4 linked regions of the Homo sapiens genome follow. The protein of the gene in region 1 purifies or fractionates together with the protein of each later gene. This does not show direct contact. Each region holds a gene or a part of one and is shown on either strand. Other genes may lie near its edges.

What was found.
Region 2: the proteins of CSTA (region 1) and HAT1 purify together in Homo sapiens (affinity purification with mass spectrometry; one large-scale study listed by BioGRID and IntAct). This does not show direct contact.
Region 3: the proteins of CSTA (region 1) and CTSO purify together in Homo sapiens (affinity purification with mass spectrometry; one large-scale study listed by BioGRID and IntAct). This does not show direct contact.
Region 4: the proteins of CSTA (region 1) and RNLS purify together in Homo sapiens (pull-down; one study listed by IntAct). This does not show direct contact.

The regions. Positions count from the first base shown.
Region 1 is NC_000003.12:122,328,160-122,331,867, forward strand, and holds part of CSTA (cystatin-A), read left to right. Parts: intron 1-3,708. UniProt on the Homo sapiens protein: This is an intracellular thiol proteinase inhibitor. Has an important role in desmosome-mediated cell-cell adhesion in the lower levels of the epidermis.
Region 2 is NC_000002.12:171,977,961-171,981,661, forward strand, and holds part of HAT1 (histone acetyltransferase type B catalytic subunit), read left to right. Parts: intron 1-1,286; coding exon 1,287-1,403; intron 1,404-3,701. UniProt on the Homo sapiens protein: Histone acetyltransferase that plays a role in different biological processes including cell cycle progression, glucose metabolism, histone production or DNA damage repair. Coordinates histone production and acetylation via H4 promoter binding.
Region 3 is NC_000004.12:155,926,542-155,929,866, reverse strand, and holds part of CTSO (cathepsin O preproprotein), read left to right. Parts: intron 1-161; coding exon 162-325; intron 326-1,438; coding exon 1,439-1,531; intron 1,532-3,325. UniProt on the Homo sapiens protein: Proteolytic enzyme possibly involved in normal cellular protein degradation and turnover.
Region 4 is NC_000010.11:88,317,618-88,321,318, reverse strand, and holds part of RNLS (renalase isoform 1 precursor), read left to right. Parts: intron 1-3,701. UniProt on the Homo sapiens protein: Catalyzes the oxidation of the less abundant 1,2-dihydro-beta-NAD(P) and 1,6-dihydro-beta-NAD(P) to form beta-NAD(P)(+). The enzyme hormone is secreted by the kidney, and circulates in blood and modulates cardiac function and systemic blood pressure.

The sequences.
Region 1 (3,708 bases):
TGTGTCTATCTTGCAGATGATGAAACCAAGATTCAAAGAGATTAAGAGTCACTTAATTAAACTGGGCATGGTGGCTCAAGCCTGTAATCCCAGCACTTTGGAAGGCTGAGGCGGGCAGATCACATGAGGTCAGGAGTTCGAGACCAGCCTGGCCAACATGGTGAAACCCTGTCTCTACTAAAAATACAAAAATTAGCCCGGCGTGGTGGCAGGTGCCTGTAATCCCAGCTACCCAGAGGCTGAGGCAGGAGAATCACTTGAACCCGGGAGGCGGAGGCCACAGTGAGCCAAGATCATGACATTGCACTCCAGCCTGGGCCACAGAACAAGATTCCATCTCAAAAAAAAAAAAAAAAAAAAGAGTCACCTAGTTAAGAAGTTAGCTCACCCCCAGTGTTTGACTGCCTGCCCTCTCTACCACACAGTGGCAGAACACAGAGGAGCTTTGTTAGGAAACGGAAATACACTGAATGGAGAGAGTGTGGTAAGTTTGTCTTCTCAGTGGAAGCACCAGCCTCACAGTTAAGTCCATATAGGAGGCCAAGGCAGGCGGATCACCTGAGGTCAAGAGTTCAAGACCAGCCTGGCCAACATAGCTTTCTACTTTCTAGTTTTCTACTAAAACTAGAAAATTAGCTGGGCGTGGTGACGGGCGCCTGTAGTCCCAGCTACTCAGGAGGCTGAGGCAGGAGAATTGCTTGAGCTCAGGAGGTGGAGGTTGGAGTGAGCCGAGACTGTGCCACTGCACTCCAGCCTGGATGACAGAGCGAGACTCCATTTCAAAAAGTAAAAAAAAATTAAAAATTTAAAATTTAATTTTTTTTTTGACGGAATCTCGCTCTGTCGCCCAGGCTGGAGTGCGGTGGCACGGTCTCGGCTCACTGCAAGCTCCGCCTCCCGGGTTCACGCCATTCTCCTGCCTCAGCCCCCCGAGTAGGTGGGACTACAGGCGCCCGCCACCATGCCTGGCTAATTTTTTGTATTTTTTAGTAGAGACGGGGTTTCACCATGTTAGCCAGGATGGTCTCGATCTCCTGACCTCATGATCCACCCGCCTTGGCCTCCCAAAGTGCTGGGATTACAGGCGTGAGCCACCGCGCCCAGCCAAAATAAAATTTTTTACTCCTTAGAAGGACTGGTGCGGTGGCTCTCGGCTGTAATCCCAGCACTTTAGAAGGCAGAAGCGGGCAGATTGCTTGATCTGGGTGGTTCAAGGGCATCATGACAAAACCCTGTCTCTACCCCCTCCAAAATACAAAAAAATAGCCAGGTAGTACACGCCTGTAGTCCCAGCTACTTGGGAGGCTTAGGTGAGAGAATCACTTGCACTCAGGAAGTTGAGGATGCAGTGAGCCATGATCACGCCACTGCACTCCAGCCTGGCCAACAAAGCGAGACTCTGTTTCAAAAAATAAATAAATAAATAAATACAGGAAATGAATATCACTGAATCATTTCATAGTAGGTGCATTTCTTGTATATCTCCTAGGTGTCTAGCATTATGCTAATTATTATAGAAGCTACATGAGGTCTATAAGATATGGCCCCTGGCCTCTAGGAGTTTACAGGGTAGTTGGGAAAATCGAGATATCTGGAACATAATATAAAACAATATCCAATTAAGTGCTTTTTTTATAATCACAGGTTTTGGACCAGAAAAGATGTTAGAGATTGCTGGTCAAACCTCCTTCCTTTCAGGTGAATAATTACTGTGAGGCAGTTCAGCTCCTCTGGTGTTAAAGCCCCAATTATCACTTATCTGCCCTCTCTTGCAGGAGTGAGCCTTAGGGCACAATTTCCAATTCAGTGTTAGAAGGTAGAGGAAGAGTTGGAAAACTCTTTGTAGTTTAGGAAGCACTTTCACGTCAATTATATCATTTATGCCCCTACAAACAGCCCCAAGAGGCAGGTATTATTATAACCGCTTTATAGGTGAGAAACTTGAGTCAATTCCTTCTCCAAAATTACAGTTAGGTCCCCATGCAGGAATAGGGAAAATGGATAGATGCTAGTAATTTAGGGACAATCTCCACTACCTGTCACTTACTTGCTAGTTTTATTATTTTTTATTTTTGAATGTATCTCTGTTTTTTAAAATCACCTGTTAAAGTGGAAGTATTCTCAGAGGAGCTGAAGTTTATCAGCTTTCCTTGGACTTCTCAGAGAGCTTCTTAGTGGAAGGCCAACTGAAGAACCCCATTAGAAGGAGAGAAAGAAGGAAGAAAAAGATCATCACATAGAAAAGGGAAGAGTGTCAAAGACAAATGATAACTGCATGACCAAGGAATTTGATATCACAGTGAAAGAGGAATATTGGATGAGGGCAGAAAGAAAAGAAAGGCAAACAAGGGATGGCAATTGAGAAAACTTGAATGTTTTTGAAGGCAGGAGAAATGAGTTTTCCCATTCTGAAGATAACAGAGACTGAACATGTCATTGTAGCACCATGTACTAAAGTACACTTGGAAGAAAACCCTCTTCCAAGATTCTCCGTATTAGCTGATGTCATTGCTATACTCATCTTTCCTATTTGGGGAGACAAGTTGTCAGGATGGAAAACAACTGTGGTCTTTTCATTCAGAAAACATTGATTAGGTAGACAGAACTGTGTGAATTGCTATGGGGGTAGCAGGGACATAAAATAGTGCCTGCCCTTTGGGAAATTAATAAAATAGAATGGAGCTAAGAGGGACACATCCAGAAAGACAGAGCCATACACAGGCCCATTCATGAAAAGCCACAATCTGTATAACGAAGAACCAAATAAATGAATGGCCCAACAGCAAAAGCCTCCGGATCATTATTGCTGATCCATTATCTTATATAATATGTTAATAAGCATTTTGATGAGAATTGTGAGCATATTTATGAGAAGGAAAGAAATGTTATTTAATTGTTTTTAGAGGTAAGGGCTACTATACATGCAATGTGCATGCACACAACAAACACACACACACACACACACACACACACACACACACACACTCCCCTTAGTCATAAACCTAATTGCTGAATACTATTCCTGGCCAACACACAGAACATGATTTTTGTCAGTCAGGACACCGCACAAACACTTCATCTGCATACCATCCTGGGCACACCCTGGAACTTAGCATGTCATGGCTCTCACCCCATCCACAAATTTGCATTCCCCTCTCTGACCACAGCCTCCTTATTAGTCGCCTCTCCCACTGTCCCACACCCAAAGAACCTGTCATTCAGCCACACCAGAATCCTTCAGGCACCTACCTTCCCAACTTCATGAGAACATGCCCAGGCCCACTGAGTCTCTCATCCAGCCTGGACCCCATGACAGGAGGGTAGCTTCAAATACTCCTCCACTCATGATGATTTCCTTGACCCTGGGAGCTCCTGACATTCTAATTCTCAATTAAAGGTCACACCCACTGCCACCACTTTCTATGCAGCTACTACTGTTCCAGAATCAAAGAACTTTGCCAAAGCGAGGTGCAGAACCACAGAAAACTCACCATTACAAACCTGTGGATTAATGCTTAACAACCCGGACAGGACCCAGGGCTGCCAGAACATTCTTGCAGTCATATTTGTTGGTCTTTTTCTAGAAACCCCACAAATGTAAATCTCTCTTCAGTTGTTCATTGCCTCCCACCCCCATGGTCCCTCCAGCAGGATGTCTCAGTTCCTACTCTTCTTAGGCCAGCTGTCCCCAACCTTTTTGGTACCTTT
Region 2 (3,701 bases), on another chromosome or scaffold:
CAGAAAAACTGTGGTTCTCCTTTGGCTTCAGTGCTACCAAAAACTTCCTGATTCTTCTGATATTTCCTTGATACCATTTGTCTTTTTTTTTCCTTTTCCTTTTTTTTTTTTTTTGAGACAGGGTCTCTTGCTCTGTCACCTGAGGTGGAGTACAGTGGTGTAATCACGGCTACGGCTCACTGCAGCCTCAACCTCCTGGGCTCAAATGACTCTCCCACCTCAGCCTCCCAAGTAGCTGGGACTGCAGGGGTACGCCACCACACCTGGCTAATTTTTGTAGAGACAGGGTTCCTACAGGCTGTTCTCAAACTGCTAGGCTCAAGCGATCTGCCCACCTTGGCCTCCCAAAGTGCTGGAACTACAGGCATGAGCCACCATGTCCAGCCCTGTCTGCTTTTTAACTGTCACTGTACTAGCAGGTTTCTGACCTTTCTCCTTTTATCACTGTATATGCTTTCCTCAGGTGACCTTAACCAGCCTTATGGTTTTAACTCTTACCTATATACTGACATTGCTTAAATCCTTGCCCTTAGACTAGAATTTTCTTCAGATTTTCTATTTTCTGCTGCCTCCCAAATCTCTCCTAGGCTGTGAAAACTCACATTTTCACATCCTTCTCTCAGTTTTTCCTCTCATATGTTTCTAGAGTCCTTGACCCCTTGGTCTTCTTGTGCTGTTCCAGTTCATGCCCTCATCGTTTTTTATGTGATGTAATAACTCAGCTTCTTGATTGGTCTCTATGCACTTCTTTTTGCTACCATTTCTTTGTAGCTGAAAGAGTGACTTATTTAAAACTCAAAATTTGTGCATATTGCTTACATTCCTATTTAAAATCTGTCATGAAGGCTGGGGCAGTGGCTTACGCCAGTAACTCTAATACTTTGGGAGGTTGAGGCAGGAGGATTGCTTGAAGCTGGGAGTTGAAGATCAGCCTGGGCAACAAAGTGAGATCCCATTTCTACAAAAAAAAAAAAAAAAAAAAATAGCCGAGTGTGGTGCATATGCCTATGGTCCCAGCTGCTCAGGAGGCTGAGGTGGGAGGATGGCTTGAGTCTAGGAGGTTGAGGCTGCAGTGAACTATGATCGTGCCACATTAAATTATCCATACCATAATCATTTGTGTTACCCACTAGACTGCTTGAGGGCAACTACTTTTATTGCCTTTCCTCTGGTTTCTAGCACAATTCCTTGCTCATGGCAGATATTAAATATATCCTGTGTTCTTTTGGGAAAGTGTCATTATTTTTACTTTGAAAATGTTCGCATTTTCTTTTGTTTCATTCTAGCAACACGCTAGAAGGGTTTATGAAATTCTTCGACTACTGGTAACTGACATGAGTGATGCCGAACAATACAGAAGCTACAGACTGGATATTAAAAGAAGACTAATTAGCCCATATAAGGTAGGACTTTCAAGAATCTTAAACACTGTATTCTTTTCACTGTTTAAAACAGAAGAAAAGCTACCAAATATCAGTATATGAGAGAGTCCAAGTCATTTTGTAAAATTAACTTTTACAAAAGTAGAAATATTCTTCCAGTAATTTATAAAAATTCTCACTCATGGCCGGGCGTGGTGGCCCACACCTGTAATCCCAGCACTCAGGGAGGCCAAGGCGGGTGGATCACCTCAGGTCAGAAGTTCAAGACCAGCCTGGCCAACGTGGTGAAACCCTGTCTCTACTAAAAATACAAACATTAGCTAGGCTTGGTGGTGGGCGCCTGTAATACAGTGACTTGGGAGGCTGAAGCAGGAGAATCGCTTGAATCCAGGAGGTGGAGGTTGCTGTGAGCCAAGATTGCACCATTGCACTCCAGCCTGGGTGACAAGAGCAAAACTCCATCTGAAAAGAAAAGAAAAGAAAAGAAAAAAAACCCGGGTGCAGTGGCTCACGCCTGTAATCCCAGCACTGTGGGAGGCCGAGGTAGGTGGATCACTTGAGGTCAGGAGTTCAAGACCACCCTGGCCAACATGGCGAAACCCCATCTCTACTAAAAATACAAAAATTAGCTGGGCATGATAACACGTGCCTGTAATCCCAGCTGTTTGAGAGGCTGAGGCACGAGAATCACTTGAACCCAAGAGGTGGAGGTTGCAGTGAGCTGAGATTGTGCCACTGCACTTCAGCCTGGGTGACAGAATGAAATTGTGTCTCAGAACAAACAAACAAACTTATCCCAAGGATAGTCTACCATGGTTAGCTTTTCTTTCATTTGTATGCATCTTTAAAAAATCTGAATGCCTAGTCTCTTCCCTAACAAATTATGTTGTTTTTCCCAAGTTTCTTGTCTTCTCAGTTGTTATATATATATATTCTCTTTTTTCTCTCTTCCCAGATAAAAGCAAAGTTATACATATATATTCTCTTTGCTTTTGCTTTCTTCTTCCTAAAAATAGCCTTTATTGCTATTTATTAATATAATCTTTGTACTTTACCATAGCCGAAACCATGTTAGTACTATTATATTTTTAAACATTCTTCTTGCCCTTTTTTCCCACTTCGTCGTCATCTTCCATATTTTCCCTCCTAGATCAAATTGGCCTTATCATTTGGACATTGTCAGGATGGATATTGTTTATGCCACCTTATGTGAATGAAAATTTGCTATCTAGGCAAGGCGTGGTGGCTCATGCCTGTAATCCCAGCACTTTGGGAGGCCGAGGTGGGCAGGTCACCAGAGCTCAGGAGTTCAAGACCAGCCTGGCCAACATGGCAAAACCTCGCCTCTACTAAAAATACAAAAATTAGTTGGGTGTGGTGGTGGGTACCTGTAATCCCAGCTACTTGGGAGGCTGAGGCAAGGGCATCACTTGAACTCGGGAGGCAGAGGTTGCAGTGAGCTGAGATCATACCACTGCAATCCAGGCTGGGCAATGGAGCAAGACTCCATCTCAAAAAAAAAAAAAAAATTTAAAAAAAAAAAAAGGCCAGGTGCGGTGGTTCACGTCTATAATCCCAGCAATTTGGGAGGCTGAGGCGGGCAGATCATCTGAGGTCAGGAGTTCGAGACCAGCCTGGCCAACATGGTGAAACCCTGTGTCTACTAAAAATACACAAATTAGCCAGGCATGGTGGGAGGTGCCTGTAATCCCAGCTTCTCCGGAGGCTGAGGCAGGAGAATTGCTTGAACCTGGGAGGCAGAGGTTGCAGTGAGCCAAGATTGCGCCATTGTACTCCAGCCTGGGTGACGAGCAAAATTCCATCTCAAAAAAGAAGAAAATTTGTCATCTAGTTGCAGCTGAGTAGTGGGATGATTGGCAGAATATTTAATTTATTCAACATATAATTATTGAGTACAGTTGCTCAATGATAAAATGTTGTTGCTGCATTTATATATACTATACCTATAGGGTTATACATCACAATAGCTGGGAACATAAGTGACCAAGTTGATTCTACATTACAATTTGAGAAAGTAAATTAACTAACTGTATCAGGTACACATAGTTTTGGTTTTCCTTTGTAAATTTAAAGAAAATTTAAGTTTTATTTGCCATGGATTCTGCTTTATAGAGCCAGTCTTGAATGCTGATGGTTCATTGGCTGACACTACTTGCTGAATCCCAACTTTTCCTTCATAGCATCTTTTTACTTTGCAGTGCAACTGTATTTCCTAATTTGTCATTGTAATTCTGTTCACATTCTGAATATAAAATTATTATTTGCCTATGACTAAATCATTTTATCTTGAATTCATAC
Region 3 (3,325 bases), on another chromosome or scaffold:
TCCCAGCCATAGACTACCAGTCTCTCAGACTTAGCTTCCATTGTTTAGGTCCTTTGTAACTGCAACCAAACCTACTCAGAATCATACACAGATTATATAGATCATTGTTATTTTTACCTTAAAAACTAAATTTTCTAACCAAATATTTCCTCTTTTGGTAGTGACCAAGAAGATGAAATGGCAAAAGCACTTCTTACCTTTGGCCCTTTGGTAGTCATAGTAGATGCAGTGAGCTGGCAAGATTATCTGGGAGGCATTATACAGCATCACTGCTCTAGTGGAGAAGCAAATCATGCAGTTCTCATAACTGGGTTTGATAAAACAGGTAAGTGCTGATAAGACTCAGTTGACTGCTTTCCAGCATGGACACTGAGTGCAAAATGATCACCATACTGTAGAACATTGAAATTTGGTTCTGCTATGATTAAGTCCTCATAAGACCTTCACAACTTCTCAACAATCTTATAGGAGTAAATGTGCCGAGACCAGCTCAGTTGTGGAGACCCTAACCCAGCGGCGCTAGAGGAATTAAAGACACACACACAGAAATATAGAGTGTGGAGTGGGAAATCAGGGGTCTCACAGCCTTCAGAGCTGAGAGCCCCGAACAGAGCTTTACCCACATATTTATTGACAGCAAGCCAGGGATAAGCATTGTTTCTATAGATTATAGATTGACTAAAAGTATTCCTTATGGGAAATAAAGGGATGGGCCGAAATAAAGGGATAGGTCTGACTAGTTGTCTGCAGCAGGAGCATGTCCTTAAGGCACAAGATTGCTGATGTTATTGTTTGTGGCTTAAGAACGCCTTTAAGCAGTTTTCTGCCCAGGGTTCGGCCAGGTGTTCCTTGCCCTAATTCCGGTAAACCCACAACCTTCCAGCGTGGGCGTCATGGCCATCACGAACATGTCACAGTGCTGCAGAGATTTTGCTTATGGCCAGTTTTGGGACCAGTTTATGGCCGGATTTGGGGGGCCTGTTCCCAATGTAAATGTCTTGTCAGATTCCACCTGTCAATTTTTGAGTGGATATCCTGTTAAAATGATGATAATTTTTGTTGATATAAAACTGTATCGGGAACATTTAGAATAATTGTTGGGAAAAGGTAAGTGCATATTATTTTATCATACGTATCTAAAAGTTCTTTTTTCTTTTTCTGATTCCTTGGAAATTAGTGTTTGTTTTCATTTTATGCAGTCCCTGTATAAAGGGAAGTGAATTCAAACATATATTTCTACTGATTGGAGAGTGTCCGTAAGTACTGCTCAGGTTTACTTAGTTAAAATAAAGTAGTTTAAGTTACCATTAAATTACATTTTTAATCTTCTTCTCAGAGCTACTATCCTTAGCAAGAATCCAACTTAAAATAAAGAAACTTAAACATTCATAACAAATTTGAGTTTTCAGGATTTGTTACTATTTATGTTTCACTGTAGGAAGCACTCCATATTGGATTGTGCGGAATTCCTGGGGAAGTTCTTGGGGAGTAGATGGTTATGCCCATGTCAAAATGGGAAGTAATGTTTGTGGTAAGTCATGAGTTTGTGTTTAAAACCTCAATATAAATATTAAGGAGATTATTTGAATATTTTAGAGTTACAATCTACTCAAACCACTTTAGCAGTAATAATTTTTGTCCTTTAACCAAATGATAAAAAAAAAAGTGTTTTGCAAGAGGAACTGTTAAACATATTAGTATTTGAAAAAGGAAGAGGGACCTTAGTAAAAAATATATATTACATATATATCTCAAAACATAAGATAAAGTAATAATTTACCAAGGTTAATTGCTTTAAAAATGAGATAAACACACAGCTTAGGAGACTGGACTCCTGCAGAAATGTCTTCTTGTTCCAAATTTACATTTCATAACTATAAATTTTTCTTAATTTCTGTATTATAATATCTGCTCAATGATTATCAAGAGTTTTTCTTTGTTTTAAAATATACGAAAACTAAGCATTAGTATTGTTTGTGATTTAATATGCCCCTTGCCACCTACAAAATTCTAGCAAAACACCCACTAGAATTGAGAGGCTTAGGCAAATACCAAACATGCTTTTTTATTGAGTGACAACTTTTTTTTTTTTGAGATAGAGTCTCGCTCTGTCTCCCAGGCTGGAGTGCAGTGGCATGATCTCGGCTCACTGCAAGCTCCGCCTCCCGGGTTCACACTCTTCTCCTGCCTCAGCCTCCTGAGTAGCTGGGACTACAGACTCCCGCCACCACACCTGGCTGATTTTTTGTTTTTGTATTTTTAGTAGAGACGAGGTTTCACCGTGTTAGCCAGGATGGTCTCAATCTCCTGACCTCGTGATCTGCCCTCCTTGGCCTCCCAAAGTGCTGGGATTACAGGCGTGAGCCACCACGCCCAGCCTGAAACACAACTTTTTAAATGAACCACCAACCAAACTAAAATAGCTAGTTAAGAATTTTAACCGTGTTATAAAACTATATTCAAACCTATATTCTAAAACTTTTGGTCTAGAAATCAACATATTTTCTGAATCAAGCTAGACCCAAACTAAGTTACATATTAGAGCAATCATGTCATTTCTTATTATAATTTGTTCCAACATATATACAATTTTTTTAAATGCAGAATCTTTCAGATTATGAGACTGATTAAATAGTTACAGAAAAATTTGAAAGTTTATGTTCAATGACTATTAACCAATCATTCCATAAGGCAGAATCCATGAGAGTTCATGAGTGATCTGTTCTATCACCCTGATGAGACAGTTTTTATAAGTTATTCATTGAAAAAAGTCAACATCACAGAAATATATTGGCCAGAATACTAGCAACCCCATCAGGCCTCCACTTTTCAGCATCACTGGGGACTCGTACATCTTTGGAACTTGCAGATAAATGACTGATGCTAATCATTAACCCTTGCTGCTGAACATATATTATGTCCGACTGCAGCAGTGGTGGATCCTGGATTTGGGCTGAGGGGTGACTGCTTTCAAATCTCTTACAGGAGTGTTAAAATAACATAATTCAAATATTGGTTCATAATTGCCTCAATTATAACTACGTCCCTCACCACAACCTTTCTCCATCCCTCAGCTACTAAGGGTGAGTGGAGATAATTTCTGCTCTCTACCTGCTTTCATAATGTAAATCTTTAAGGGCATGCCTGGTTGGTAATCATACAGGGATTCAAATTCTTCCTGAAAGTGAGTATTCCCTGAAAGTTACAATGATGTCATATTACTCTTATGAGCAATGGCATAAGGCAGATAGTATTTCATAGCTGCAAGAGATTTCGAAGATACGGTTAGTTATAATAAAAACCAGTCTTCAGATAGGCTATTTAT
Region 4 (3,701 bases), on another chromosome or scaffold:
ACTTTCCTCTTAGCCCTGCTTTTGCTGTATCCCAGGGATTTGGATATTTTGTTTCTATTTTCACTTGTTTCAAAACATATTTTGATTTGTGCTTTAATTCTTTTGTTTACCCAAAAGTCATTCAGCAGCAAGTTGTTTGTTTGGTTTCCATGTTCTTATGTGGTTTTTGATAGTTCCTCTTGGTATGATTCCTGATTTTATTCCACTGTGGTCTGAGAAGATGCTTGATATGATTTTGATGTTTTTAAATGTATTAAGATTTGCTATATGGCCAATCATATAGTCAATTTTAGAGACTGTTCTGTGCACAGATGAGAAAAACATACATTCTGTGGTTGTTGGATGCAGTGTTCTGTGGTGTTTACTGGGTCCATTTGGTCAAGAGTCCAATTTAAGTCCAGATTTTCTTTGTTGTTTTCTGCCTCAGTGTTCTATCTAGTGCCGTCAGCATGGTGTTGAAACCCCCTACTATTATTGTAAGGCTGTCTATCTCTTCTCTTTAGGTCTAGTAGTATTTGTTTTCTAAATCTTGGTGCTCCGATGTTGAGTAAACATACATTTAAAATAGTAGAATTTTCTGATTGAATTGAACCCTTTATCATTATATAATACCCTTCTTTGTCTTTTTTTTTTAATGTGTTTGTTTTAAAGTCTCTTCTATCTCACACAGGAATAGCAACCCTTACTCTTTTTTGTTTTCCATTTGTGTGATAGATCTTTCTCCATTCTGTTGTTTTGAGACTGTGGCTGTCATAATGTGTGACATTGGTCTCTTGAAAACAGTAGATGGTTGGGTCTTGTTTTTTTTAATCTAGTTTGCCAATCTGTGTTTCTCAGGTGGGGCTTTTATGCTGTTATGTTCAAGGTTAATATTGATATGTGAGGTTTTGTTCCTGCCATAGTGTTGTTAGCTAGTTACTTTGTATTCTCAATTGTGTAATTGCTTTATAGGATCCGTGTACTTTGGCCTTATGTGTACTTTTATGGTAGCAAGCATTGTTCTTTTGTTTTCATGTTTAGAACTTCTTTGAGCTTTTCTTGTAGGACTGGTCTGGTAAAGAAGAGTTCCCTTAGCATTTGCTCATCTGGGAAAACTTTATTTGTCCTTCATTTATGAGGTGTAGTTTGGCAGGGTATAAAATTCTTGGCTGACTTTTTTTTTTTTTCCTTTAGAGAGTTAAAAATATACCCCCAATCTCTTCTTGCTTGTAAGGCTTCTACAGAGAAGTCCACTGTTAGTCTAATGGTATTTCCTTTATGGGTAATTTATCCCTTTTTTTCAGGTGCCTCCCTTTGAGAATTTTTTTTTCATGTTGACCTTGGATAGTCTGATAATTATAGGCCTTGGTGACTATCATCTTCTGTAGTATCTTGCGAGAGTTTTCTAAATTTCTTATATCTGGATGTTGATGATTCTAGCAAGGTTAGTAAGATTTTCCTGAATTACTGTCTCCAATATGTTTTCCAGGTTGCTTTCTTTTTCTTCTTCTCTCTCAGGAATACCAACCAGTTGTATGTTTGTTCACTTTACATAATCCCATATTTTTCAAAGGCTTTCTTCATTTTTCTAAATTCTTTTTTATTTTTGTCTGACTGGATTAATTTGAAAGACCACATTTCAAGCTCTGAAATTCTTTCTTCTGCTTGTCTAGGTTATTGTTAAAGCTTCCAACTGTATTTTGAAATTCTTTCCATGAATTTTTTCATTCCAGAAGTTCTAATTGTTTGGGTTTTTTTTCTTTTTTTGACATAGCTGTCTCATCTTTTATAGCCTGAATTGTTTTTCTGGTTTCTTTGTATTGGATTTCAACTTTCTCTTGGATCTCATTGAGTTTCCTTAAAATCCATATTTTGAATTATTTGTCTGCCATTTCAGACTTTTCATTTTTGTTAGGACCTATTGCTACAGAGCAAATGAAATACTTTGGAGGTGTCAATCCACTCTAGGTTTTTTTTTGCTACTAGAGTTCTTGCACTGATTCCTTCTCATATGAGGGATCTGTCACGTTTATTTTTTAATTTTCTGTCCTTTTGATAGGACTTTTACATTTTGTAATTCTTTTTTATCTTGAGGGTATGTTGTATGTTGTGTATGATCATTTGGCCTCCTTTCCAGGTGCTTTCAGAGGACCAAGGTGCTGTATGGGTCCTTCATTGTGGGTAGCTTTTGTGTGGTGGCTTTCTCGGATGCTGCTTGTTGTAGCAATATATTTGACATATGAGCTAACACTCTATCTACTGCTTGGCTGAGGGTATGGAAGTCTCATCACATACACTAGCACTCAGCCCTTCTGGCAGCAGGTGTTTTATTTGGTGGTGGAGTTCAAGCTCTAGTCCAGTAGGTGGCACTTAAGAGTAAGAGCTGGCCCACCCACAGGTAGATTGATGATGAGCGGAAGCACCTGCCCTGATATAGAGGGGAGGAGATTTTGTTGGAGCATGCTGAGGTCTTTGGGGAAGGAGCAGTTGGGGAAGTGCACCAGCTCCTCATCCTGACCAGGCAGGAATGCCAGCTGCTTCCCCTATCACACCATGTCACAGGGCTCCCAGCCTTCAGTTCATAAAGACTTTTTCCTTTGGTTCCCAGCTGCAATGTGGCTATGGGCTACTGATATACCATTTTGGCAGCTACCACCAAGATGGTCTTGGGGCAGAGCCCCTTCCCCCAGTCCAGAGCAGACAACTCTGTGGCTTGTCTGTGTCCTCCATTGCCAGGATGCTGCTGTTTTGTGTAGGGTCAGGGAGTTGGGCCCTGCCCTTTGTGCAAGCCCAAGCAGCATGGGCTCACTTTCAGCGAGTGTGGATTCACTACAAAAAGTGTGATAAGTGCTTTCTCCAGGTGCACATATACCAGCCCCCAGCCAGAAGAACCACTACTGCATCCTCAACAGTGGCTAAAGGTGGCAAGGGGTGGATGACTCCCTCTCCACAACCCTTCCTAGCCATCAGTGCTACCCCCTTCACCGATTGGTGCCACTTCCTTCATTTCCTTTGTCCCAAGGGAGACTTTAGTGGGCTGTGCTCCCCATTGCCTTCAGGGCAGCCCACCAAGGGTGAGATCTCCAGGGCTCCCACAGCTCCACAGGGACCCAACAGCCCCATGTTTGCCAGAGACAGAATGGGTTGTGGGGTATGTTTGTGGGGAATCTCGTGGTGTGGTGACTCAAGGGCAGAGATTCCCTGGGCAGGGCAGTGTCCCACCACAGGTGCACAACCAGCATGGCTCAGTTCAGCCATGTCAGTTCAGGTCTGAGGGGAGTGTAGGCATGCTTAACATGAGCTGGCCACCTGGTTCTTTGCCCCTGGAAAATTCCCCCAAGTCACCACTGACAGCATTGCCCGTGATCCAGAGGGCAGAGGGGCTCCCCAACAGTTTGACAGTCAGTGAATTGTTGCAGGGGTGAAGGGAGCAGAGAAGCACACCCACTACCCCTTAGCACAGGGTTCTGAGTTCCTCAGGGGTCAATCTCTGCCAGACCCTTGCTGCTTTTTTTTTCTGCATCTCAGCTTTTTCCCCTGGGCACTCTGTCAGGTCCTGGATCTCTTCTGTAAGTTTTGCATTTGGAACTTGTCCATTCACAGATAACTTTGATCTTTCTGAAAAGAGCTGGCATCTGATGTCACTAGACAGGCATCTTGAAAACCAGCAGCTTGATGGTGACTGTTATAGAACAAAGTGAACATACTCAATGCTACTGAAC